Homo sapiens: one gene and its partners. The protein of the gene in region 2 purifies or fractionates together with the protein of the main gene of each other region. This does not show direct contact. Each region holds a gene or a part of one and is shown on either strand. Other genes may lie near its edges. The genes, in order: TSPAN3, GPR141, TTYH3 and CCNY.

What was found.
Region 1: the proteins of GPR141 (region 2) and TSPAN3 purify together in Homo sapiens (affinity purification with mass spectrometry; 2 studies listed by BioGRID and IntAct, with this or other methods). This does not show direct contact.
Region 3: the proteins of GPR141 (region 2) and TTYH3 purify together in Homo sapiens (affinity purification with mass spectrometry; 2 studies listed by BioGRID and IntAct, with this or other methods). This does not show direct contact.
Region 4: the proteins of GPR141 (region 2) and CCNY purify together in Homo sapiens (affinity purification with mass spectrometry; 2 studies listed by BioGRID and IntAct, with this or other methods). This does not show direct contact.

Annotation. Positions count from the first base shown.
Region 1 is NC_000015.10:77,054,092-77,061,116, forward strand, and holds part of TSPAN3 (tetraspanin-3), read right to left. Parts: intron 2,165-7,025; coding exon 1,973-2,164; intron 1,773-1,972; coding exon 1,698-1,772; intron 189-1,697; coding exon 87-188; intron 1-86. UniProt on the Homo sapiens protein: Regulates the proliferation and migration of oligodendrocytes, a process essential for normal myelination and repair.
Region 2 is NC_000007.14:37,679,916-37,686,772, forward strand, and holds the start of GPR141 (probable G-protein coupled receptor 141), read left to right. Parts: upstream 1-3,850; 5' UTR 3,851-3,988; intron 3,989-5,263; exon of another isoform or gene 5,264-5,335; coding exon of another isoform or gene 5,336-5,383; intron 5,384-5,544; coding exon of another isoform or gene 5,545-5,668; intron 5,669-6,857. UniProt on the Homo sapiens protein: Orphan receptor.
Region 3 is NC_000007.14:2,648,982-2,656,006, reverse strand, and holds part of TTYH3 (protein tweety homolog 3), read right to left. Parts: intron 6,441-7,025; coding exon 6,368-6,440; intron 6,095-6,367; coding exon 6,019-6,094; intron 3,821-6,018; coding exon 3,765-3,820; intron 3,090-3,764; coding exon 2,997-3,089; intron 1-2,996. UniProt on the Homo sapiens protein: Calcium-independent, swelling-dependent volume-regulated anion channel (VRAC-swell) which plays a pivotal role in the process of regulatory volume decrease (RVD) in the brain through the efflux of anions like chloride and organic osmolytes like glutamate.
Region 4 is NC_000010.11:35,331,929-35,339,526, reverse strand, and holds the start of CCNY (cyclin-Y), read right to left. Parts: upstream 3,019-7,598; 5' UTR 2,474-3,018; coding exon 2,320-2,473; intron 1-2,319. UniProt on the Homo sapiens protein: Positive regulatory subunit of the cyclin-dependent kinases CDK14/PFTK1 and CDK16.

The DNA of each region.
Region 1 (7,025 bases), on a different chromosome or scaffold from region 2:
CTAATTTACACAGAAATAGCAGTTAGTTTAATGTTGACCCAATCGTGATTGGTCCTCAAAAACAAATCTGCCTCAAGAAAGCTCACCTGTCTCTGTACATAATCAATAGCCCGGCTAGCAGCATCAGGGTTGGTTCCATTGTAGGTCTTATACACTTTCTGAATGCTGCGATCAACCTCATTTTCCACCTGAATCAGAACAAAGAATTCAGTCCCTCAAAAATACTAGTAAAAGTAACATTAGTCAAGGCTCCTACTAAAATACTTAAATGAAATGTTTGCAAGTTGCCAGATATCTATGAATTTCCTGTAAAGTTTTCTCCCTTCCTGCCTTCATCTTCATATAGATATAGATGAAGGCAGGAGGGAGAAAAGTGACAGGTAAAAATTCAGACATATACCACATACATTCAAGCATTCAAAGAGAAGATTGTGTGCAAAATGGCAGGCTAACAATGTATTCAAAAGGGAGAAAAGTTGAGGCTTGGGATAGATGTCCTAAATTATAAATGGATGCCTTCCTTTTACAAATAAGTTACTCATTTTCCTTTCCTAAAGGAGGTAAAACAAAGTAACTCTGAAGCTCCTGTAAGATACTTTTAGGACAAATGCCAACATTATTTCCATTTTATTTATTCAACGTTTAGAGTTGGCTAAATGTGCAAAAGTAATCGGCAGGTTTAAAAAAATCAGTCCTTAGAAATGGCACTTTATGAAAAAGCTACTGTTCAATGTATTGCAAAAAGGAGACAGGAAACAAGCTTCATAGCTTATTGCTGCCAATTACTAAAATGGCAAGCAAGTATCACTTAGTAAAGTTTGCTTGTACCAGATCCTCCTTACCCCTCGGAGGACTGGACTTATCTGGTAATTACAACAGTAATATCATAAGTCCATAAAATTGATAACCAGATCATAGGTAGGGACATAATCCATTGCATTTTTTTTTTAGCACAGCTTTACAGTACCTTACGTATCAATGATCTGAAAATTAACTTGGCATATTATGCCCTTGACTCAAAACCATTAAGTTATAATGAGAATGAGTCTATTATGTCTTTACCATGCCTCTAAAATTATACCCATATTAATTAATTTAAAGCAGCCTGTTTAGCCTTAAGTAGTACTACAGGTAGACAGCAAAATCAGGCAAAATAGAAAGGAAGGAACGGTGAAATGATTAAAAAGAATGAAGGGCAAGAAAGGAGTGCTGGCACCAGCTGCCTTGGTGTTCTAAGTTGGCAGGACCCCTTGTTCCTCAGGACAGGGGTGGAAGGTGGGATCACAACTCACAACACCTTTTTCTATGTTTAGGACCAAAGCATTTTTTAAAGAGACAATGGAAAACGCAATTCTGAGTTTGGTTCTTCTAAAGCAGAAATCAGAAAATTATGCCTCCCCTCATATAGGCAATCTGTGTGCTGAGGAAATCTGAACAAACTTCTCAGCTAATTATTCATTTGCAGCTATAAATACCTATAATCAAGAACAATACATATATAACACTCTGCTATATTAAATGAGGTAAGGAGTCTTGACATGTAAATATTTGCCAATTAACTTTAGATATTTGAAATACAGATTAAACAAGTAAGGCAAAAGAAAATGTTTACTCTGATAAAATGAATGTGTTCTATTTTACTTGAAACACTTAAACCACCTTTTAAGGCATTATGTGAATTACAGTAGACAACATACCTTTGCTCTGTAAACATATCCCAAAACCACTACAACAACTTCTGTGACAAAAACCAAGAGCAGGATGATGACAAACTGTAAGAAAACATGGTTTAAAATTATATACAAATGAAAAAATAACTTTAAATACACTCTTGATTTAAAAAAAGTTATCAGAGATAATTGCTAGAAGTTTAAATGTTAACTCTGTTCCAACTATAAGAGCCAAGGAGTCTCATGTTCAAGGAGAGTAGCATAGACTAAATACTCCTGCATGTTCTCACAACACATCTTACCGTGGCAAGTCCACAGCGACTTTCCCGGATTGTGGCACAGCAGCCAATTAGCCCAATGATGAAAAGCAGGGCTCCTACAGCTATGATCACTACAGCAGGGATGAGCGTGTACACATCTTCAAAGAAGTGGTCATAGTCATCATAAGTGATGAAGACATAGGCTCCCACATAGCATAAAATGCCAGCTGCCCCCTGTAGAAAACAAAGTCAGTACTGGTCTCTAAGCACTGCTGGTAAAAATTTCCTATTATTGCTTAGTATGGTATAATTTAATGAGAGTTACCGTAACTGTTATAGACTTTTTTCAGTAAAGCTGAAAATTCTATGATTCCTTGTTAAGAGCATTTCTATACTAGATAAAATTAAAAAGTTATCCACACTTCACCTACTTTTCACGAATTGATGGTTCAGCTAGGACCAAGAAACCATAACCAAATAATAACAATGATGATGACACACACCTACACATCCCTAAAGGCTTACTGTAGCTCAATTCCACATCCAATACGGATCAGTATGGTGGTAGGGGGATCTTTGCTCACTACAGTTGCCCTCAATAAGTGGGGAAATTTGGTAGAAATGACAGAGCTTGGATTTGAACTCAGGCAATCTGACTCCAGAATCTACACTTCTAATCTCTATCTACCCCACCTCAAGGAAAAGAAAATACACCAACTAGTAAGCATGATACCCACCCCACTTCCAAAAATCTTGCTGTCCTAGAGACAGTGAAATGGCAAAGCTAGAGGGCTCAGTCATTAAAGAACACTGCAAGTCCTCTATCAATTCTTTAGAATGGTGGTTCTCAAACTTTGAAGTGAATAGGAATTGCCTGAGGATCTGAATAACAAGCAGATTGATTCAGGAGGTCTGAGGAGGAGCCTGAGAGTCTGCATTTCTAACAAGTTCCCAGGTGATGCTGGTGCAGCTTCTTCTTGGAGCGCACTCTGAGTAACAAGGTATTAAAGACCTAAAGGGAAAGTGAACACACAAAGACAAGTGATAGGTGTGTCTTATTTCAGCTGCTGCTCCAGGCATCATTCTCCAGCTGCAGAGTCTTACTTTCTCCGCTATTGTCAATTTTGCTATCTTTGGGTACCAGCTCTGTGCTGACAGCCCAATGCCACTGGCTCATATACAAACAAGCAAATGCAGTGTCAGAGTAAGTGTTAAAACATTTGGTTATCACTTGGATAACAATGAGTTATCATTTGTAGAGTACTTTGAAACTTTCACAAGAAGTATTTCATCATCCTTTAAAATTTAACATATAAATCATCTTCAAACTAGAAACAGCTGCCACAGTGATACTGGAAATATCATTAACTTCTCTGAACCTGAAAACCCAGATCATTTAAGTTTATGAAATTCAGTAAGCTTGGGGATCATCAGTATATTTTTTTACACTAGGCCATTAGGATCACTGTCAGATGAGGAAGAAAAAGACTCCATTTATGTAAATTTGGGAAAGTAATTTGATTTTTTAAAATGTAACATGAACTTTTTAAAGTGAGAAGACAACTAGAATAATGAAGGCAATTTTTAAAAACATTGTTTTAAAACTCTCTTCCTCTGGCTTCCAAGAGGCCCCACTGCTGGTTTTCTTCCTACTTCCCCAGGTGCTCACTTTTTCATTCTCTTCACGGACTCTGAGATGTTAGTGATCTCCAGGATTCTGTCTTCGGCCTTATTCTTTAGTCATTCTCTGGGCTCTCCGTGGGCTACAGCAGCTATGGCTTCATTAGTCATTGTAGCTCACTACCTGAGCTATCATCTCAGAACTACACATTTCCATCTGCAAGTTCCAGAGACATGTCATCCTCAACCTGTCTCAAACCCTTTCTGCCTTCCTGCCCAGCCCATCTAATCTTCCCTTACATTCCTATCATAGCAAAAGGTACCAGACATCTAATTTTTCTGGTCAAACATCTGAGGATTAACTTTCCTTGCCCCACCTCTATAACCCATAAATCACAAAACTTCAACTTTACTTCCAAAACATTATTCGAATACCTCAACTCCTCTTCAACCCCACTGCAGTGCTTCTGTCTTAATTTGGGCCTTATCTTATCCCCCTAAATCTTACTTATTGACTCTCCCTGCATCTTAATACATTCTTTATACTACCAGGGTTATATTTATTAAAAATACAAACCAGATCAAGCCATAGCCTTACTTAAAATCAGGATGAGGCAAGTGAGTCCCCGATGAACCAAGCTATTCCTCCTTTTCAGCCCCAGATCTCATTACCCCTTGTGAACTATGAACAATATAGAACTGTTATACCCAAATGGACCACATATTCTCTCACTTCTTTGCCTCCGCTGTTCTCTCTAGAATGCTCTCTTCAAATGCCTGGGAACTCCTTGTCGCTCATTAAGATGAAGCTTAAATGTTACCTCTTCCTTTTGGAAGCCATTCTTGACCATTTCAGGCTGGATTAGCTGCCCTTGGTGGACACAAACATCTCCCAGTGCATGGTTCTAACAGAATATTTATCGAAACGGTTGCAATTATAGCTATACCTGTCTCAACACACCTTGAGAGCACGAATTGTACCCATCTGTCCTTCACCCTTGTATCATCTAGAACAGTACTTGGCAGACAGCAGGTATCAGTTAAAGTTTATTGAGTACACCTCATCTCACCCCTTTCCCTTGAAATCACCCTCCCAACTCTATCATAAGCTTTGGTTTGTATTTGCGTTGGTTTGTATTTGTATTTGGTTTGTATCTGGTTTCTCTTCAGTTCAATGCTTATAGCTTTTAGTTCACTATTCAATTATTTGGCAACTGAATCCAGCTTGCTGAATTCTGATGGCCATTACATCTGGAATATGTTAATATATCGTAAATATGTCATAAATATAAACACTGTACTTACAGCAAACTGCCTGTTCAAAGGTTCTCAGAGTTCACTGACATATTTGCTTTTGGGGCATGGTACTAGAGAATGAAGGTGAGCACAAAAGTGGGGGGGAGTGGAGAAGAGAAATAGTTTAATTTATCTTAATTTTATTTTATTTTATTTATTTTTTGAGACGGAGTCTCACTCAGTCGCCCAGGCTGGAGTGCAGTGGCGCAATCTCAGCTCACTGCAGGCTCCGTCTCCCAGGTTCACGCCATTCTCCTGCCTCAGCCTCCCGAGTAGCTGGGATTACAGGCGCCCGCCACTACACCTGGCTAATTTTTTGTATTTTTAGTGGAGACGGGGTTTCACCGTGTTAGCCAGGATGGTCTCGATGTCCTGACCTCGTGATCCGCCCGCCTCGGCCTCCCAAAGTGCTGGGATTACAGGCGTGAGCCATTGCGCCTGGCCAGACATAGCTTAATTTTAATTTGGGTGCATTTATTACAGAAGTATGTCAACTACTTAACACTCTTCCCAAATACCCCTTTTTATTGACTACTTGTGTGATATATATTCACACACATGTACACACACACATTTTGCTAAAGTAAATAGTATCAGTCCTCACGCTAAATTAGAAGCAATCTGAAGTGCAAATTAATCAAATTTTGTCATTTGTTTTTATTAGACGTTTCTCTATCCTTTAATGTTGTAGGTTTTTTTTACTCTAAAAGGCAGTATTTATTTCTTAAAAGGCTTGAGTTAAAATGAATTCCATTTCTGAGCTTTCGGTACACCTACTGAAACTTCACTAGCTTTAGCCTATGTAAATTCGAATGAAAATAAGAGAAAACTGGAGGCCATATGTACTTAACAATCAACCTGAAGCACAGTTCACTGAAGAACTACTTGCATTTTAGATATAAATTGATGAGTTTTCAATCTAAAGAGGTTCCTATGAGACTCACACTTAGTGCTGCTTGGAGGTGGGCCAAGGGAAATGTTTCCTCTGCTGCCACTGCCTCTCCCCCCTAAAAGAGGCACTCATCTGAAACTGAGACTACAAGAAAGCAGAAAAACCAGCAACAGAGACAACCAGATGCACAACAAATGCAATGGAGGGCTGTGGGGAGATGCCATTTGTAAAGCTGCCTCTTCTTTTCTGATAGACTCTACAACAGTTTTTTTTCCCAGGCTGCAGTCAACATCCAAGTCACACAACAAGATGAGAACATAACAAAGCTCTATTTGGCAACATATAGTTAAAGGAACTTACTAGTTGCACACACCAAAGAGAAAACTGCACGGATTGCTGATATGAAACTATACACATCAAATTGCTTATAAATAGACGATGTGTTTCCTAAATTGAAAACAGCTTCAAATTTTGCTTTTACTGAAATCTGTATATGGTGCTTATATCTTAAGCTGTATAATAAACAATTATGAAATGACACTGGTTACTTTGAAAATATAGAAGAGGTATCCCAGTAGCAGCTGAAGACCTAAAAACAGCCAAAAGTAATTGTTGTAATGATATCCAACCATCAATATGAAAAACACCCAAAAGAACATGGGAAACAGTATAGTAAATGGAAGAGAGGTTCTAAGAAATTCCTAACTAGTATGCATAGGGACTTTGTCATCCCTCAGATTTTTAATGCAGAAATTGTGGCTATCAGAAAAGCTATATAAAAGGTGAGCTTAAATTCTTCTTTTGAAGGGCCATGATGGGATTGAGATCTATCAAAGGATCTGAGCTTTGCCAATAAAGCAGCTGCAAAGGAGGGGGCTGGGGAGGAGGGAGGTGCAACAGAAAAGGAGATGAAATGTAGAACTTGGAAGCAGCTGAACTGCTTTAGTCACCACTGAGAAAATCTGAGCCTGTAAGGAGGATTTGTGCCAGGACAGTGTACTAAAAATATTCATCCTTTTTACAAAGAAGTGAAAGGAAATTTAGGCAAAAGGCTGAGGTCTGAAATTACAGAAAGAATAATTTTTAAAAAACCATTATTCTTTATCTTTTAATAAGCCTATACTCTAAATTAAGTCACAACATTTTAAAACTTTAGGAGAGCCAGTGCTTTTCCACTAAGCTGTCTAAAAAATAAAGCCATCTTGTTATAAAATTTTGCAAGTATATGAGTTCCAAAAGTATGATACTTCATTTTATGCTTTTACCCTTCCTCTACATATGCACAAA
Region 2 (6,857 bases):
ATTAGTACTTTTACCACCTTCAAGAAGATGCAAAGATTTTAGAACACTTGAATTCAATTTATATCTCTCCATGCTTTATCCCATTATTGTCAGGAATTTTGACTCTACCTATATTTCAAATCCTGTTAGGTGATTACTATTGTTATTGTAAATCTTTGATATGTACATAGGTTTACCCACACATTTGCTCTTTCTATTGCTCTTGGTTTCTTTGTGCAGTTCTGGCTCTCACCTGGGATTGCCTTTGCACTTTTGGAATCACTCCTTTTAGCATTTCCCTTAGTTCATGTTGGTGGGTTACAAATCATCATAGTTTCAGTTTGTCTGAAAATATTATTGTGTCATCAAGATGATGGATATTTTTATTGCATAAAGAACTCTAAATTAGCAGTTATTTTCTTTTACAATTTTGAAGATGTTGTTCCATTTCCTTTGGGTTCCATTGCTGTTGTTGAAAAGGCTGTCTTCAATCTTATTGTTGCACACTTAAAAGTTTTTGCCTCCGAACAGATTTTAAGTTTTGTTTTTGTTTTTTCTTTAGAGATGGAGGTCTCACTATGTTGCTTAGGCTGGTCTCAAACTCCTGGCTGAAAGCAATCCTATCATCTCAGCTTCTCGTGTAACATAATTTTAAAATTTCTTTCTTCATTTTTTTATTTCATATATTGGACCTTGGTAGAGTTTTTGTTGTTGTTTCTATTCTCTTTGGGATTCATAGTGCTTCTTGAGTCTATGTCTTTTTTTATTATGATTTTTTAAAAAATGTATTGCCCTTTAAAATATCGTTTCTTCCAAATTCTTCCTCTTGTTTCTTTCCAGAGCAACATTATAGGCATGTTAAAACTTTGCCCTATGTCTTTCATGACTTTTGTGTGATTTTATATAATTTTTATCTTTTTTTTGTTGCCATTATTCAATCTGGTATTTCTTTTTTTTCTTTTTCTTTTTTTTTTGAGACTGAGTTTTGCGCTTGTCACCCAGGCTGGAGTGCAATGGTGTGATCTTAGCTCATTGCAACCTCTACCTCCTGGGATCAAGCGATTCTCCTGCCTTGGCCTCCCTGGTAGCTGGGATTACAGGCACCCACCACTATGTCCAGCTAATTTTTGTATTTTTAGTAAAGACAGGGTTTCACCATGTTGGCCAGGCTGGTCTTGAACTCCTGACCTCAGGTGATCCACCTGCCTTGGCCTCCCAAAGTGCTGGGATTACAGGTGTGAGCCACCATGCCCAGCCCAATCTGCTACTTTCTACTGACCTATATTTCAATTCCATCATCCTCTGTGTCTAATCTTCTATTAGTCTTCATCAGTTAAGTAACTTTAGTTGTTTTATTTTTCAGTTTCAGAATTTCTATTTTATTAAAAAAATTCTCTAGTGTAAATTTTCTATATTTTGTGTACTCTCTTCAAACATTGATTACAGCTATTTTAAAACCAATCAATTCTGAATGCCCTTGTGCATTTGTTTCTATTTTCTGTTTATTTTCATGGTCTGTTTTTCTAGACTTATCTTCAGACATGGCTTTTAATAGTTATTGAAATTTGGACATTGTGTTTAAAAAGTTTGAGAGTCAATTCATTGATCTGGTTAGTGTTATCGTCCTCCAGAGAGTATTTACTTTTGCTTGATGTGTGTGAGGAGGTCGTTATGACGATGGCAAATCTCCTATCTATTCAGTGATTGTCTACCTAATTCAGCAATTTAGGTGATTTGAAATTGGGCTCCCACTTTGTGATGGTACAATATTTTTAGCACATGCTGTCTCCTAGGGTGTAGCCCTTCAGGGGTCCTAACTGAAAATTTGAGGTAATTATAAGGGCACCACCTCCTTGGTGGTCTCTGTTTGCTTCTTAAACTAGATTTCCTTAACTTCTGAGCATCTTAGCCACTGTATTTCACCTGTTTCTTCACCTCTCAGTGTCCAGTTTCAAATCAGCAGTGCCTTGAGTAAAAAGTACTCAGGAGTTGAAAATCAGATTCACTGATTTGTACTTCCTGTCTTCTGGGGATTTTATTTCTTCAAGGTGTCATTGCCTGGGCAGCTTTCTGAAGCCTTCAAACTTATAGGTTTTGCATTCTGTTCATTTTTGTAAGCTGCTCTCAGCAGGAGGGTTTGTCAGCAACAATCTTCTCTACAACTAATAAAGCTTGAAATATCTCTAGCATGAGTTATTTTGAAGCAGATAGCATTTTAACTCATATGGCAGAAAGAACGCACATCTGCTGAAATTGAAGAGTTTCCTGATGCAGAGGCCTTCTCTTCAAACTAAGAAACAAAGTTGGAAGCACTTAGAACATTATGTTTGGAGTAAGAAATGTGAATACTGATGAAAACAGAACTGCAAAAATTTCGCCTAAAATAATGAGTGTTTTAGCACTGTAAAGAATACCAGGAATCACCCCAAATTACCAAAGTTATCATTCTACTTAGGGACCTTAAAATAGAAAGAACCCAGGGCCAGTATCATTTTGATGCCTTTTAAAATTTCTTTTTGAAATAGTGAAATGTCACAATGGATTTTAAAAATAGGGGAATGTTGAAAATGTTGATATTTAATAAATTAGTACTTTTTAATTGACCAATTTCTATATAATATTAACATGCTGTCTACATCAGGAGTTCTCAACCCCTGGGCCACAGACCAGCAGTGGTTCGTGGCCTGTTAGGAACTGGGCTGTACAGAAGGAGCGGAGCAGTGCACGAGTGGGCCAGCAAAGTTTCGTCTATATTTACAGCTGCTCCCCATCACTTGCATTACTGCCTGAGCTCCACCTCCTGTTAGATCAGCAGCGGCATTAGATTCTCATGGGAGCATGAACCTTATTGTTGAATTGTCCATGCTAGGGATCTAGGTTGCAGTGTTCCTTATGAGAATCTAATGTCTGATGATCTATCATTGTCTTCCATCACCCCCAAATGGGACCATCTAGTTGCAGAAAAACAACCTCAGGGCTTCCACTGATTCTACATTATGATGAGTTGTATAATTATTTCATTATATATTATCATGTAATAACAATTGAAATAAAGTGCGCAATAAATGTAATGTGCTTGAATCATCCAGAAAACATCCCCACCCCTGTCTGTGGAAAAATTGTCTTCCATGAAACCTTTCCCTGGTGCCAAAAAAGGTTGGGGACCACCGATTTACATAATTAGAAAGTTTATAAAATCCTAATTTATAGAGTGGTCATCAAATGGTAGGAAAGTTCAAGCAGTTTGAGGAACTGATGTTTTTTTTTCTCAATACTTGCAGTGCATCTCTATGACTGTATGGGCAGCTTCTTCTGGAGATAATGTTGACAGTCTAAAAAGTTAAGCTGTGACGATTTACTCCCCTCCCCTGCCCCTATAGCACACTCTGATTTTAAATATTTTCTCTCTTAATTCTAATTAAATGACATAATTATAGTGCCATATCCCAGTCAATGCCATTTATCAGTGACAGCTAATTAACACAATTATAAAAGTGGGAGCCCTAAGTTACCAGTGAGGTATAGAGCAACTCTGGAAATTTTCTCCTTACTGAAAGGAAATATTACACATATTCCTTCACCAGAAGAACAATACACAGTTTACCTTCCCTTTTTGTTTTTGATAATACCACTTTGTTCCCCATTCTCTACAAAATTTAGTTTGAAGAACATTTTAAAAACTTGATTCATCGTAGTCATCAATCCTTCATAAATATTTCTTGACAATTGGCCTCTCTGTAGTTTGCAACCTGGACTACTCATGTTTAAGAGCTTGGTTTTTCAAGACTATTGTGTTTCAAATGGTTTTGAGGTTTTATGGTCTGTTGACATTCTGAGGAACTTAGAACACATTCACTTCCTTTTGCTTGGTGAGCTGTCCAGAGCCTTTGCAAATGCATGCAGAGCATGGAAATGACCCAGCTGCCCTGCTGTTGAAACAGAATCCTATTTGGAAGGCAGACATGTGGCCCATCTCTGTAGCCATCACTGAGAAATCTGGATTTTCAAGGTAAGTGCAGATGACTTAGGTTTGGGGAGACATGAATGAAAGTGCTATAGAAATAAAGCACACTTAATTTGTTGGCATAGTCCTAATTCAGAATCTTCAAATGGTTCTGCTCTAAAAAGCAAGCTTATTCTCTGACCACAACTCCTCCTTTATAGAAAGAATTGTTCTATTCTTACTGCTTAGGATATGCTGCTCTGAAAGTAAAACCTAATATTTATGGGTAAATGTGAACAAAAATGATTTCAGAATCTCTCTGTCAAAAAACCAGCTAAACATATCATAGAATTTTTTAGAGCAGTTGGCACTATTGAATTTGTGTATAATTATTCAAATGCTTATCTTTTAAGTGATGTCTTAATTTCCTTTTGTTATGAAAATCCTTTAACTCTATTACTGCATTATTTTCAGATAGAGTTTGAAACTATTCAGGCAGCCCTAGTCAATAGAAGGAAACAATCTGTAAGCAATCAAGTACTTAGAAATTTCTAAAAGAAGTATATTCAAAATAACATGTGAAATAATGGTAATTATAATTCTTTCCATCCCACTTTTAAAGTACTACTTAACAGGAAGGATCTGAAAATAACTTCTTAAATAAGATAAATAAAAAGAACAACATCTGTTCAAATAATTTTACTTTAAGTAAAATACTTTCTATACCAGTATTTTCTACTTCCAAGAAGTAATATTTTTCAAATATGTGGAATGAAATATAATGCAAAGTTTTTAAACAATAAGTCAGTAATGCCTAACCTGAATATAGGCATTTAATTTTGTTTCTTTTACAAATTTGTTATATGACTTTTGATAGGTCACTTAATTCTCTGGACTTCAGCGTTCTACATAACTGCACAATTACTTATCTGAGAAATTACTTATTAAGTACTCCAGAATTACATGTCTTTGTTTTCTGTTTTATTGGGTTTAAATCAGTTAATTAGGATTTTAATCAGTCAATAGAAGTAATGGGAAGACCAATGGATGAGGAATCAGGTGGTGTGAATTCTAGTCCTCTGTTTTCTAGTAATTGGCTGCATAATTTGGGGGAATATTGTCTAAGGATTCCAGACCAGGGGTTGGCAAACTTTTTCTACAAAAGCCTTGATAGTAAATATTTTAGGCTTTGCAAGCCAAGAGGTAGAACTGAGGCTAATATATTGGTACTTACATAACCATTTAAAACTATAAAAACCATTCGTAGCTCACAGGCTGTATAAAAACAAGAAGTGAGCCAGCTTTGGCTTAGGTGACACAATTTTCCAACTATTCTTCTAGCAATGATTTTCAACAATTATAAAATGGAAGTTGTAGACTGGATAAGAGATGCTCAGCTAAGGGAGTTCCTGGATGGTCTTTAGATTGATACACCAATCCTCTGAAATTGCATGCAAAAATGTAAGTGTGTGTTTTTCTTTTCTTCCTTTTGTGCGTGTGTGTGTTTCTCTCCCTCCCTCCTTCCTTCCTGCCTGCCTGCCTGCCTGCCTGCCTGCCTTCCTGCCTTCTTCCCTCCCTCCCTCCCTCCATCTCTCTCTCTCTTTCTCTCTTTCTTTCTTCAGGGCCTTTCTCTCTGTTGCCCAGGCTGGAGTTTAGCGACTCAATCATGGCTCACTGACTGCAGCATCGACCTCCGGGGCTCAAGTGATCCTTTCATCTCAGCCTCCTCAGTAGCTGAGACTACAGGTACTTGCCACCACACCTGGCTAATTAATTAATTTTTTTTTTTAAATAGAGACAGGGTCTTGCTCATGTTGCCCAGGTTAGTCTCAAACTCCTGGGCACAAGTGATCCTCCTGCCTTGGCTTTTCAGAGTACTGGGATAACAAACATGAGCCACTGTGCCTGGCAGCACTTTTTTTTTTTTTTTTTTTTTTTTAAATAAGAAAAACACGGATTGATTTTCAAAGTGGTCCAAAATCCAATTGTAGTTAAGGACCACAGGTCTAGCTAATTTCTAAAAGTGCTTTCCAAATTTAAAATCAATGAGCCTGTGAAATGTTTACTGGTGTCTACTATGGGTAAGCCATTGTGCTAGCACTATAAGAGACGTAGCATGTTGTGACTAAAATAATGTGTTAAATATATTGTTAAATAATATGTTAAAAAATATATTTTTGGGACAGGGCCTCGCTCTGTCTCCAAGGCAGGAGTGCAGTGGCACAATCACAGCTCACTGAAGCCTTCACCTCCTGGAATCAAGTGGTCCTCTCACTTCAGCCTTCCGAATAGCTGGGAGTGCAGGTGTGAGCCACCCTGCCTGCCTTTTTTTTTTTTTTTTTTCTTTAGAGAGGGGGTCTCACTATGTTGCCAAGGCTGGTCTCAAATCCCTGGGCTCAAGCAGTCTTCCTGACTCAGACTCAGACTAAAAATATTTTAAAGAAGTTAGAATATGTGCAAGTCTGTGCTGTCTTTCAAAGTAATAACATTGAAAACAATTTTCAATTGATCAAAGATTTCTGAGACATTGCTTTGCAAAGTGTTTTCAAAGCTAGTTCATACGTTATACCAAAGTATTTTCCAAATTATGTTATTGTCCCATCTTATTTTGAATGACAATGTTATTATTCGTGACAGTCATAATCAAACTTAATCTAAGCATAGTCTGTTTCCTAAAAACATAATTTCCTTAAGGGCAGGAACTATGCCTTTGCTACCTTTATATTTTAGAACAGGGTTTGACCCATAATAAGTACCCAGCATCTTTGGAATGGTTATATGAGTGAATAAGTGAATGAAATGATGAAGGTATTATCATGGAGATTACGTACCATAGATAGTGAAGGCTTGGAACTCCAGATGGTCTAAAAGCAGTAGTTGCTAAGTCCAAAGATGGCTTCTCTTTTCAAAATTGGATGTAACTGTGATTTCAAAA
Region 3 (7,025 bases), about 35 Mb from region 2:
GTCTCCCTCCAGCCCATAATCTTCGACTGAGATACCCCCCACCCTGGGGTCTCAGTGCAGGTCCTGAGGACAAGGACTCTGGGCCTTGAGAAATGGTGACCCCAGGCCCCTCCTCAGACCCGTGGGGTCTACCAAGGACATGAGGACCCAGAAGCGCCTGTCCAGTGTGGTCGCCACTACGTGAAGACAGACCTCCCTTTATTGTAATGGGAGAAACAGCGAACCCCCACGTGTCTACTGACACGGACCTGCTCTGCTTTTGAAAGTATTATTTCAAGGAACAGCTAAAGACAAGGGAAGAGTCTCATACTGACTGACAAAACTCTCCATGCAGAGTGAGCGCAGTCCTGTAATGTGTCCGTGTGCTCACCGGTGCTTACGTGTGTGCATGCGTGTGCACCTGTGCACGGACACCACCAGCTCTGTCTCATGCCTGGAGAAACGGCTGCACAGAAACACTGCCAGGCTGACAGCGACTCCACAGGAGCAGTGACTGGGCCCATTGCTGCCTTTTACGGCACGTTTTCTAAGGACCCACTACAATCCTGAAATGGATTTTGGGGCCGGGAGCGGTGGCTCACCCCTGTAATCCCAGCGCTTTGGGAGGCCAAGGTGGGTGGATCACTTGAGGCCAAGAGTTGGAGACCAGCCTGGGCAACATGGTGAAACCCTGTCTCTACTAAAAATACAAAAATTAGCCAGGCGTGGTGGCACGCGCCTGTAGTCCCAGCTACTCAGGAGGCTGAGGCAGAAGAATCGCTTCAGCCGGGAGGCGAAGTTTGCCGTGAGTTGAGATCACACCACTGCACTCCAGCCTCGGCAAGAGAGTAAGACCCTATCTCAAAAACAACACCAAAAAAAAAGAAATGGATTTCGGGATAACAGAGCCTACTGTTACGGGCTCAATGGTGCCTCCAGAATTCCTGTGTTGCGGTCTGAACCCCCAGGACCTCAGAAAGGGGCTGCACTTGGAGACACAGCCTTTAAAGAGGTGTTGAAGGTAAACCAAGGTCACATGGGTGGGTCCTAGCCCCATGGGACGGGTGTCCTTATAAGAAGAGGAAAATGAGCTGGGTGCGCTGCAGGCGCCTGTAATCCCAGCTACTCAGCAGGAGAATCGCTGGAACCCAGAAGGCAGAGGTTGCGGTGAGCCGAGATTGCGCCACTGCACTCCAGCCTGGGCAACAGAGAGAGACTCTGTCTCAAAAAAATAAATAAATAAAAATAAAAAAGAAGAGGAGATCAAGACACAGACACCCACAGAGGGATGGTCCTGTGAAGACAGTGGGAGAAGACAGCGTCTACAAGCAAAAGGGAGGCCTTGGAAGAAGCCGGCCCTGCCAAGAGCTGTGAGATGATAAACGTTTGCTGCGGAGGCTGCCCCATCTGGGCTGCTGTGCTATGGGGGTCCCAGGAAACGAATCCACTTCCCTACCCACTCGAGTGCAAAAACGCCAAGAGGGAGCTCTAGCTGTAACAGAAATTCTAAAAAGTAACTTTAAATCAAAGCAATTGTGTGTGTGTGTGTATAATTTTTATTTTTAATTTTTTTTTATGTGTGTGTATATATGTTATATATATATACACATACATACAGAGAGAAAGAGAGAGAGAGACAGGGTCTTGCTCTGTTGCCCAGGCTGGGGTGAACTGGTGCCATCACAGCTCACTGCAGCTTTGAACTCCCGGGCTCAAGCAATCCTCCTGCCTCAGCCTCCTGTGCAGCTGGGATTGCAGGCATGCTTTGCCACACCTAGCTAGTTTTTGTATTTTTTTGTAGAATGGGGTCTTGCTATGTTGCCCAGGATGGTCTTGAACTCGTGGGCTCAAGTGATCCCCTTGCCTCAGCCCCCCAGAGTGCTGAGATGACAGGCATGAGTGCCGTGCCCGGCCCCGTGTGTGTATACACATTTGTTTGCTTTTATCTTTGTGAAGAGCTCCTTGGAGAAGGGCCAGCTGCTCCCAAATGGAGTCTGAGACCCACACTTGTGCCCACAGACGCACTCCTCCCTCTTCATGTCCAGTCCTGGGGCGGTGTGTGTGGGGGCAGGGATCCCCACGGGTGGACCAAACACCTCCAAAGAGATTTGGGTTTTATCAAGAGTATAGCAACGTATTTATTTTTTATTTTTATTTTATTCTTTGAGATGGAGTCTCGCTCTGTTGCCCAGGCTGGAGTGCAGTGGCGTGATCTCCGCTCACCGCAATCTCTGCCTCCCAGGTTCAAGTGATTCTCCTGCCTCAGCCTCTGAAGTAGCTGGGATTACAGGCGTGTACCACCACGCCCAGCTAATTTATGTATTTTTAGTAGAAATGGTGTTTCACCATGTTGGCCAGGCTGGTATTGAATTCCTGGGCTCAAGTGATTCACCCACCTCGGCCTCCCAAAGTGCTGGGATTACAGGCGTGAGCCACCGCGCCAGGCCTTTATTTTATTTTTTTAACATATTGTAATGTAGAAATGCCCGGGCCCAGAACACTACAGGGAAAAACAAGAATCCTCTCAAATTTCCACAATGCCCCCAGGGCACTCACCCAGAGAATGGATCTGATTCTGTTACTCTCTTCCCTCATCTCTTTCCATTTTCTTCAATTTTTTTAAATATAAAGAGCTTGTATTATTTTTAAACAAAGAATAAAGTTATTTTTTAAACGTTGGGTGTGGTGGTTCACGTCTGTCATCCCAGCCCTGAGACCCACCTGGGCAACATAGCAAGAGCCCATCTCAAAAGAAATGATTTTTAAAACCTACCAAAAATTCCCAAGGGAAAGGAATGAAGGAGGGAGGAAGGGGAGGAAAAAATGAGGCCTAACGCGGAAAGGGCTGGGGGAGGGAAGAGGAACACCTCCCATGCCACCTCCAACACCAGGTCCCCACTCGGCCAGCCTGGTGCCTTCTCCAAATTTGCCCTGAGCTGTGTTTGCACCACAAATTCCTTTCATGCTGAGAAAAGAGGAGCCCTGCCTGCCCCAGTGCCTACCCCGCAGCCCCTCACCTTAGTGGCCGGCTGCTCCCAGGGGACGGTCCTCAGAAGCTCAGCCACGACATCCTGCATCTCCACCAGTGCCTTGTGGCTGCCCGACAGCTTCTGCTCCAGAGAGGAGACCAAGTCCATGGGCGCTGCTGGGTCCGCCCGCCTCTCCCTCCCCAGGACCCTCCAACGCGGGGACACCAGCAAGACGTCCAGCCTGGGAGACCATCAAGGCTCTGCTCTGCAGGCCAACAGGGCACTCCCTGCCCTTGCTTCCCCCGGGACACACCCAGAGACCACAGAGCCCTGAGGTGGTAACAGCCAACCACGCACCCACACCAGCAAGCAAAGCACAGTCACACGGCCCTCAGGATTCAAAGGGTCACATGCTACCGGTACAATGACAGGCAGTGTGTACAGGGCTTGACCAGCTGGTGCGGCCGACCTCTTCAAACTCCCCCACCAGGACGCCTGAACACGGTTACCCTACAGAGGCATCCCTGGGGCTCCTCCTTCCCCCACCAAGGCCAATCCAAGGAGCAAAAGCAGTCCCAGCGATGCGGGTGCATTGAGCAGGTCCCCCCGAAAGGCTCTCAGCCAGGTCACCAGGTCACCGGCATGGTAACCCCAGGGGCTGTTGGTGACATCCACACAGCCTTTGTCCAGCTCCCTCCCCCAGTTCCCCAGTCCTGCAGGCTGAGGAGCCAGGCGCCAGGCCTGCTGGGCCCCTCCACACACAGCAATGTGCTTCAGACTCTCCTGAAGCCCAGTCCCGGCCTCCCAGGCTCTCACCTGCTGGAAGGGGTTGGCGGCGCGGGGCGAGCAGGCCAGGTAGTACTGCAGGATGTCTGCGGAGAGACATCAGGGAAGGCTGAGCTGCAACAGCTGTCCCTGTGAGACTGCGTGCACGTCTGCCTGTGTCTGCACGCATATCTTCAGGGCATCTGCGTGCATGTTTACATGTGTGCATGTGTGTCTGTGTGCACCTGTTTACACATGTGCATGTGTCTGCATGTTTACTTACACGTGCATGTGTCTCTGTGCACGTTTCGTGTGCACGTGTGCCGGTGTGCATGTGTCTGTGTGTTTATATGTGTGCATGTCTGTGTGTACATGTCTTCGCATGTGTGTCTGCATGCATTTACACACATGCCTATGTCTGTGTGTGTGGCAGTGGGGTCTGGGCTCCCATCAAGCCAGAGTCCCCACACACTGCCCCTTGCCTGGGTTCCACCTTCCGAACTCTTTACAAGTTCAGTTCTTCCAATTATAAAAGAACATTAAAAAAAAACATTTTAAAAGTTCAAAAAATGATGAAAGTATTTAACAACATAGGAGAGCACCAGGCATCACTGTGGCCGCCTGTGCAGTGAAGCCAGCGTGGCTGGCCTTGCTGCCTTCTGGGAGGGGCTGTCTGGCCCGCAGGCTGGAGCTCACACTTACGTGTGTACATGTACACGTGTAGGGGGCGCTGCTCATACTTGATGAGATCCCCCCAAAGGCCGCCGGCTACAGTAGGGACCTGGAGGGACCAGGATGATAGCACCGGGGCCAAGGACAGTGGTGGGTAGCACTGAGCGGTCACCAGCCCTCCCCGCCCCTAGCAGAGCGGGCCCACCCCTCCACCCTCGCCCCCGAGGACAAGGTCAGTGGGCGGCAGATGACTTTTCCTCCAGGAGGCTCTTCAGGCTTTGGTGGAAGTGGTTCCTTCAACAAAGGCAGGTAAAAAACCAGCCCACAAGCCAATCCTGTGGCCTCCAGGGACAAAGGGTGGCAGGATGGTCACCTTCAAGGTCATTCAGTAACCCTCACCCCCACAGGGACAGGCCTTCTATTTCCTATTGGGGAACACACAATAATTCCACAAGGGGGGCCTGAGAAGCTTAACACACTGACGGCACCCCGATCTCCAGATTCCCACGTCCACCTGCCTCTGTGCCGTCCGACACACATCGCAAACCTCCCGAGGGGGCCGAAACTCCCGATGCCCCAGCTCCCTGCCCCCCACCTCCAGACCTGCTCCCCCACCCACAGTACAGCTTATGGTCCCGCAGCACAGAGCTGCTGAAACCAGGGACGCCAACTCCTGCTCCGTCCCTCTCGCTCCCTACATCCAACTGACCGGGAAGTCCTGCCAGCTCCGCCCTCAAAGCCCATCCCTGTCCACCTTTTGCTCCATTTATTCAAGCCCCTGCTGTCTCCTGCTTGAGGTATCCTCCTCACCCACTCTTGTAACCCTTGAGGCCTGAGGAAGCTTTGAAAGGGACCTTCAATCATGGGTCAAATCTCTCCCCTGCCTCCCTCCCTCCAATGGCCTCCCCCTGGAATAAAGCGAAGCTTGCCACAGAGACTCAGCCCCACTGGCCTCCCACCCTCCATTCTCCCCTCGGGTCTGCCTCCTGCCTCGGGGCTCTTAGAAGAGATGCAGCGTCCTTCTGGCTCTACTTTTTTTTTTTGAGATGGAGTTTCACTCTTGTTGCCCAGGCTGGAATGCAGTGGTGCGATCTCGGCTCATTGCAACCTCCACCTCCTGGGTTCAGGCAATTCTCGTGCCTCAGTCTCCGGAGTAGCTGGGATTACAGGCACCCACGACCACACCCAGCTCATTTGTGTATTTTTAGTAGAGACAGGGTTTTGCTATGTTGGCCAGACTGCTCTTGAACTCCTGACCTCAGGTGATCCACCCGCCTCGGCCTCCCAAAGTGCTAGGATTACAGGTGTGAGCCACTGCACCCAGACCTCTGGCTGTACTTTAATGCCACCCATTTGGCCTCCCCTGGGCATCTACTCGAAGCAGCCCTGGGTCACCTGCCGCTCCCCCTGCCACGCGGGCACCCGCCACCCCACATAGTTCCTGTCATTCTTTGCAGAGCCTCCCACTTGGGAAAGGTGGTCCTGTTTGCTCACTAGCATCTTGGCCTGGGACCTGTCTCCCTGAGACCATGGACCCACAGGGCAGGGGTGTCTCGGCCTCAGCTACCCCACTCTTTTGGCTCAGCCCAACCCTGGGGAACCCGCTGGGACACGGCCGTGGACACAGACTCACCCCCACTCAGCACCGAGTACTCCTCCACCATTTTGGTCACGTAGGCGTCAGGGTCCACACAGAAGTCGCTGGAGCCCTGAGGTGGGCGTGGGCAAGCAAGAGGGGTTGACCAAGCTGGGCCTAAAGGGAAGCTCTCGGGGGTAGAACCCGTCCCCTGGAGTCTGCTTTCAACTCAGGAGGGTGGACTGTGAATCTGGGGTTACAGGTGGACTGTGCCCATGGTGGGTCCCCACCGCTCTCGGGACCCAGTGCCCGGGAAGATGGGAGGGGAGAGGAGTGTGGCTTCCCCTCGTCCCTCCCCCAGTGCCCAGGTCCAGCAGCCGGGGACCTCACCCCCTCTGCCACTCACCACGGACACAGCCAGCTCCAAGCCCAGCGCGCCCCAGCTGATGACCAGGGCCAGGACTCCCAGCAGGCAGACCCTGGGGCAGAGACAGCCAGTCAGCAGCCCCCAGGCCAGGGTGGGGGCCGTGCCACCTGCTGGGCTGCAGGCCAGAAGGCAGGTCCCAGTGCACATCAGGGGTCAGCCCACACATGGGCTGGGGCTCTTCCTGTGGCCTGGCCTCAGCCAGAGCTGCCCACAGCCCAGGGCCCAGATGGATCCCTCTCCTAGGTGGGGTGGGGCTCAGAGATCTGAGCTGGAAGCAGGACTGGAGGGCCACGTGGCTCTTGGGGCCCCGCCCCTCCTGTCCCCCAGGTCCCTCTCCTGAACAGGCAACAGTGTCCACTTTCACGTGGGTCCCCGCATCCCGCCGCCCACGTAGCAGCCCAAGGGGCCTGATAACGTCAGCTAGATCAAGCCCTCCTGTGCTGAACCCTCGCTCAGCAACTGGGGACTCAGAGCTCTTGCTACGGCACTGGCCTCTCCCTCATCTGAGGCCTCACCTCACCCACATCTGGCTCCCTTTGATCCAGATACACAGGCCTCCTGTGCATACCCCACTGCAGGTGCCCCCACCACGAGTCCCCCATATCCCAGTTCAGATCCCCAAAACACACCCCAGTGC
Region 4 (7,598 bases), on a different chromosome or scaffold from region 2:
ATGTTTACTAATAACCTAACAATCAATATAACTCAGTTCAAATACATACAGATATAGATGAGCAAATACAGACATATAGATGTATATAGTGTGTATATATATACACTCTATTTAATTAAAACCTGTTCTCTTCTCTCAGCCTCTAATAATGAATTTCTACCAAAAATGTCCCTGAACGGCAGGTAACACTTCCAAGATTTGCCCAGCCAGCAATTCTCAGGCCTACCTGCATCTCAGAATCACCTTGGAGAGATTTAAACATATTAATGGCAATGTCCAGTACTAGATTTCTGGTTTAACTGAAACCAATGTTGAGAACTGCTGGCTGGGTCAATGCTAGAAGTATTATTTATTGAATTTGAGAGACAGAAGGTGAATTAATATTTCGGGGTTTAAACTAGCATAATCATATGAACTGGGATCTGGGATGAGAGGGCACTCCACAGCCTAGATTGGAAACCTGCCCTATACTCTCTCAAACTATCCTGAATCTGCAAAAGAGTCTTCCAAACATTCTCTCAAAAATTCCTGATGACTGAAACTTAAGATTTCTTTGAAATGAAAGAACACACAATATCATTTCACTGTACTCTGGCAAAATTGTACTGAGCCTTAGTGCCAAATACCTGGTTACACTTATTTTTTCCACCTTATTTCCTTACAATAGTCTATAATAACTGTATGCAGCCTGGCTCTAAGAAATGTAAATCTTCTTTTTTTTCTTTTTTGATCCATCATTCAAAACAAAGCCTCCGCTAGATACTGCACAACATAAAAAGGAAATTTACTGCACATCATAAAGAAGACATTATTTCCAAATGTTTTCGCCTGTCAACATAGTATAGGACTGGGTAATGGCTTTCTGTAATAAACTCATTCATTTATTCCTCCCTTTAAAGTACAATACTTACTGTTTATTATATGCTAGACTTTTCTTTCAGGTGCTAGAGGCTGTGAAAGTGATCAAGACCGATCTGGCCTTCATCCTTCTAGATGCCTTTAAATGCATAAATTTAAGAAGAAAGTATGGCTGTAGTTCAAAGACATCTAAGCGTATGTTTAAAATAATGGAAATCTAAAATAACAACACTAGACACGTCATATGGAACCATAATTTACTAAGCGCGTACTAGAAACCAGACGTTGTGTTACTCCCTTTATACATGGCACTCATTTAATAAAGATGCTCTCCTAAAAAGATTAAACTACCATTTAGAAGAAATTACACGAAGACAAACGAGAAAAATCTTTCCTTTAGCAAAGTTTAAATGTGGCCTTTCCACAGTGGAGAGAATCTTCCATCCTAAAGTGGACAGGAACGAATTATGAAGTTGTGTTCATTCATTCACACAAAAATTTCTTCATATTAGTTCAACCAGATTAACTATGAGAAGATGTTTGGGTTAAAAAAATCACCTTGTCATAAAAAGATACTTCCAATTTCAAATCTTTTCAGTTGAAAATTCTATAAACTATATTTTAAGCATGATGCATAAATATCCCTCTGTCGTTATCACTGAGCAACAGTGCTAATAAATATGTTGCCAAACCAATAAAATAAATAAAACATTACTGCGTGCAGTAATTAGTCTTAGCTTTTTTTCTTTTTGCAAACTCCAGACCAACCAAAAGTCACCTGAATAAATCAGAAATTCATAGGACTGCAATTCGGGCCCATGCAAAAACTGAGACTTAACCCAAAGGTGTCTGACAATCTTTTAAAGAGCATTCTCGGGAGAAGCTATTTGACTAATCCTGGAACCGCCACTCAAAAAAATCATTTTTTAAAAAAAACGGTAGAATGGGAACGGGGGAAGTGGAGTCCATTTGTAAGGTTCCGGGGAACTGACTCAACATGGTTCTCCAACTCGAGGTTGGAGACACCGGGATTCCAAAATGGGAATCCACTCACTTCGCTTTTATAGGACAAACGCGTGCACAACTTGGCTTCGGGCTGCATTCAGGTAGTGCCGGGAACCCCGAGCTCCCGGGCCGCCCCCACCCAGCTCTGGCCGCTCCATTAAGGACGAGGGCCGGCTCCTGTCACCTCGCGACCCACGCGCACACACCCGCCCTAGGCCCGCCGTGCTCGATGCCGCGGGCCTGCAAAGTTTCCGCGGCCGCTCACTTGGGGGTAACCAGCGAGGGGTACGCCCAGAGGCTGCGGGGCCCCGGGCGCCTAGGCTGCGCGGGCGAAGCCCCGGTTATGCACGGGTCGCCGAGACCGGCTGGGCAAGCAAGAGCAGCCGGGCCGCCCCGACGTTGGCTGTGCGACTGTTGCCGCGGGGGCGGGTAGGGGGCTCGGCGGGCCGCACTCACCGTCTATGTTCTCCCGGTCGCTGATGTGCTGCAGGTTGCAGCCCGTGTCCTCGCGGCTCAGGTCCGTGTCTGGCCGGTAGGACTCCAGCCGGGAGTGGGCATTCCTCCGGAGCTTGGGACTGGACGACACGCAGCACGAGGTAGTGTTCCCCATCTTCGGCGGCCCCCCGACTCCTGCTGCTATCCTGTTCTCCCAGTCCCCGGGAGCGGGGCGCGGGTGGACGCGGGGCGCGGGCGGCGGGGGCGTGTGGGGAGGCCCGCCCGCTCGCCGCCACGGGAGGGGGCGGAACGGCGGCCGGCCGCCGGGTCAGCAGCGGCGGCGGCGGCGGGGCCTCGCCATGGGCGGCGGCGGCGGCGGCGGCGACGAGCGGGCGACGGCCCCGGCTCCCCCTCGGCCGGCCTATCCGCGGCGGAGGAGCGCTCGGGTCCGCGCGACTGCGGCCGCCGCGCCTACCTCACCCCGCCGCGGCCATGGCGGGCGGCGCCGCGCAGGCCGCCTCCCCCCCGCGCTTCCCCAGTTGGTGTCCGCTTCCCCGGCGGCTGCGGCGACGGCGGCCGCCTCGGCAAGAGGTTCCGGTTCAAGCCGGGGGCACGCGTGTCCGCGCCGGACGGCGGGACTAGCCGACGAGCGGGCGGGCAGCGGGCGTGGGCGCAGCCCCCGGACTCCTCGCGGCGCGGTGCGGCGCGGCCAGGGAGGATGCTGGCGGCCCTCCCTCGCCAGCGGCGCCCGCCCTCGCCGCAGCCCCCGCCCCGCCCCGTCACCGCCCCTTCCCTCTGCCCTGGAAGCAGATCGGCGGCCGCGGGGAGGTTCGGGGCGGCGCAGCCCCGCGCGGTTGTGGGATCGCTCCCGGGGGCCGCTCCTCTCTCGGGCACTGGGGTCGCGGGAGACGTCGTCGGGAGCTCGGTTTCTGGAGGCCCTTCCCCACCCGGCCTCTGCCTCCTCCACTCCCCCGGGCTGGACGGAACGGGGCCCAGCGCGGGATGCGAGGTGCGTCCCCGGGGCCCGCAGCGGGCGGGAGCGCAGCCAGGGCCCGGTCGGGGACGCAGGCCCAGGGCGCTGAGGCTGCACCTGCCTCTCCGAAACCGGGCTGGCTCTTTTTGTCTTTTTATTTTTCTAATTTATTTTTTTAGAGGTATGATTTCGCTCTGTCGCCCAGGCTGGAGGGCAGTGGCGCAATCTCGGCTCACTGCAGCCTCGAACTCCTAGGCTGAAGCGATTCTCCCGCCTCAGCCTCCAAAGTAGCCGGTACTACAGGCGCGCGCCACCACGCCTGGCTAAGGTGTGTGTGTGTGTGTGTGTGTGTGTGTCTCCAAAGTAGCGAGGACTACGGGTGTGTGTGTGTGTGTGTGTCTCCAAAGTAGCGAGGACTACAGGCTCCCGCCACTACGCCAGGCTAAGGTAGGGTGTGTATGTGTGTTAACTTTTTGTAGAGATGGGATCTCCCTTTGTAACACGGGCGCCCGCCACTAAGCCAGGCTAAGGTGGTGAATGTGTGTGTGTGTGTGTGTTAACTTTTTGTAGAGATGGGATCTCGCTTCGTAACCCGGGCTGGTATCGAACTCCTGTCTTCAAGGAATCCTCCCGTCTGGACTCCTCCCATGGGATTACGGGCATGAGCCACGGCACCTGGCTATTTTTTTTTTCTAAGCATTTAAATAAGCTGGGGCTTGATTTGGGAGTTTTCTATTGTATTTTGAGCTTTGCCGAGGACTTGATAGTGACCTTGCTTTAAGCTGTGAAATAAATCTTGGGGTCCCAGAGCTATTTTAATATTGAATTCGCTGTGGAGTTGTTTTGAGTTCCTTGGAGGTTAACATGAGATAGAAAACTAAGTTAACACAACTCATCGACTGCCCTTGCTTTGCTTTGCTTTGCTTTTAGAATGCCATCGGGTTTTGTCATGTTGGGAACAAGTTAACTTAGGCCAGTTGACTAAGATCAAGGTATGTGAACATGCCTGGCTGGGAGAGAAGTAGAGTAAATGTTGGTTCGCATTCCCTCCCGACGCCCACAATGCCAGCCATCCCTGACTTTTCTTGCCTTTATTGGGAAGAATATAAGGTGGCAGAAACAAACTTCCCACCCTTTTTCCAAATATTTACTGAAGGAGTCTTGAGGAGAGTCTTGTGGGGTGGGGGGGTGGGGGTGGGAGCTGGGAATGTTTTTGAACTAGTTCTTGAAAAAAAAACTAGTACAATAGTACAACTGTCTTAATTTTATATATGAGGAAACTGAGGCCCAGAGATGAAATCATGCCTTGATTTATGCAGACCTCAGTACCTGTTCGTGACAAATCCAGTTACTAAAAGGTAAGAGAAGGAATAAGGGACTTGATATTTATCTAGCATCAGCAATGTGTGGACATCGTGTGAACGGCTTTATAAACATTTCATTTAATTCTCTACATCTAGCCATTTTTTAACCTGTGCTTTCCCTCCCTCTCAAAGTACTGTTTATACATTTATTAGTCCATATTTTAAACGCTCCATGCTCTCAACTGTATTAATGCTATTTGTTAGGATAAGTGGCAGATGTCCATGGAAAATAAGTGGCTGCAAAGTGGTAATGCTGACCAGATGAGAAAAGAAGTGTAAAAGGGAAGTTCTAAAGAATTAAAGCCCTGGAGAGGGTGGGTAGACAACAACAGTCCAAAATAGTGCTCTTCATTGAGGCTGTGTAGATTTTCCTGCTTCCTGGGAAAACTGGGGCATATTTACACTTGCATGTGTGTATTCAGATTGTCTGGGGCTATGGAGTTTGGGTCAGATTGCTGAACCCGTGGGAGAGAAGTTCCCTTGTTGTCTGTTGTTGTCTGTTCTGATTGCTGCTTTGTAATTTGGGCCACATATGAAAGTCAGCATCCAGTCATTGGACCATAGGTGTGTGGCATATCTACTCAGATGCATTAAGCTATTTTTATTTCATTATAAAATGTATAACATTTACATTCAAATTATGGTTTGAAGGGCTTAAGAGGAGAAAGAGACAGTGGCACTAAGGTGACAGCATGGCTGGCTGCATGCTTCCTGTCCAAGAAGGTCACTGGGCAGTGTTAACTGGGAAGAGCATCTGGAGGATGAGAGATCAGTGTAGCCACATACCCTTAACAAAGGGTGGTACAGCCTCTGGTCTGCCAGGATTTTTGTGCCCCGCCCCCCTCCCCCTCTTTCCCTATCTCCTCTTTGACATTTCCACCATATTCCCCTTAGGTATGTACCTGTTTGGACTTTAATTTAGAGTGTAACTTTTGGTCAAGAATCCTGGAGAGAAAAGACGGGTACTAAAGCCTCGCTAGTGATTTACCTGGGTGCCGACCCCCACAACTCATCCACCCTACATGCATACTTCAAACTCCTCCAGGCAGATACTCCCTGCCTGACACACAGTGACACTTTGGGAAAAATTGCAGAACAGTAACCAACTCTGAGCAGATAAATGTGATGTCAAAATGATAGTAATGAGAGATGTCGTTCGTTGAAAGCCTGCTAGCTGCCATGCACTATACTATTTCTTACATCTAAATCTGATTAAGTTATACCCCATTTTATAAATAGACACTTTGATAAGTAAACCTATCTAAGATCAAAATACTGAGAAATGTCCTAATTGGGGATTTGAACCTGGTTCTAATTCCAAAGTCCAAGCTACATCCACCCCAACCTCCTACCTCCTATCTCCAAGACTTTGTGAGTAAAAAAACAAGTGTCACTTCTCTCCTTCTCTTTTTTCTGTCCTAAAGGAAGCTGGGAGCTAACCACTTAGGACTAGTACTAATCTTTCAGAGAAAGGGATGAGGGGAGCCTTGTTATTTCTGTGGGGTTCAGCTCTCAGACCAGAGTAAGACAGGCAACAAGGTTGAGGAGTAGCCATATGCAGAAATAACCTGTGTATCTAGCCACAGGATCTCCAACACTGTGTCACTCGGGAATCAAAATACAGAGACAGTTCCTCAATAGAGTGTGGATCTAGCCCAGAATGTGGACAAGGGGAGTGGAGAAGGGGAGAGGTACACACTGAGCATTGTAACAAGGCCTGTCCTCAAGCTTGAGGAGGATTAGGAAGATGGCTTGAGTCTGGGAGTAGGAGGCTGCAGTGAGCTATGATTGTACCACTGTACCCCAGCCTAGGTGACAGAGTGAGACCCTGTCTCTTAAAAGAAAAAAAAAATTGACCTGGATCTACTCATACCCACCCTGGTCTTTGAGCAGAAAGAATCATTTGGGAATTATTTTGTCTCATCTTTCTCCATGATCACTGTTGAAGAATTTGGTCACTGTAACCAGGTAAATATAAAACTCAGGTGGGCCGGGCGCGGTGGTTCACACCTGTAATCCCAGCAGTTTGGGAGGCTGAGGTGAGTGGATCACGAGGTCAGGAGATCAAGACCATCCTGGCTAACACAGTGAAACCCTGTCTCTATTAAAAATACAAAAAATTAGCCAGGCGTGGTGGTGGGCGCCTATAGCTCCAGCTGCTCGGGAGGCTGAGGCAGGAGAATGGTGTGAACCCGGGAGGTGGAGGTTGCAGTGAGCCGAGATCGTGCCACTGCACTCCAGCCTGGGTGACAGAGCAAGACTCCGTCTCAAAAAAAACTCAGATGAACTATAGCTAAGTCAGTGCTCTTGACACTTTTTTAGCAATAGTAGCTTTGTTTCTCACAGAAAAAACAAAATTTTCTGTGGAACCACACTATTTAAAACATAAGCAATATTAGTATCAACTTGTATAATTTATAGATCTACTGATAAAAACAATCAAGAATAGTCTACCTTAATTGAATCAGGAGGAGATAACTGCAGTCTTACATCAGCCATACTCGTATCCATGAAATATGAGTCAGTCATTTGCACAACTCCCTGAGTCACCTTCTGGAACACAGAAAACACTGAGCCAAGTTAGCCCAGGACCTGAACCTTTTGTGGAAAGGAAAATCTGTAGTGTCTCCTCAGAGTATGGCTGCCCTTTCACCTGGTAGTCAGTTTCTCATGACGGTTACTCGAGCATTTATAAGGCAGTTGTGAAATAACCAAGACATTCTGTGTGTTGTGCTACTGATGCTCCTCCTGTCACCGACCTCCTCTCCAAATGAGGCCTGCCTTTTGTCCTTGGTAGTAGGCAGTCCACAGTGTAACCAGCTACAGGGGAAGTATTTACTTTGATAGCCACTTGACCTTGATCAAGTCAGGTGACTCATTTCTGGATAACATTTTTGAGAGTATACTGAGCCAGGCACCTTGAGGATACGAAAGTGGATTATAGTTTCCATTCTGGAGAAACT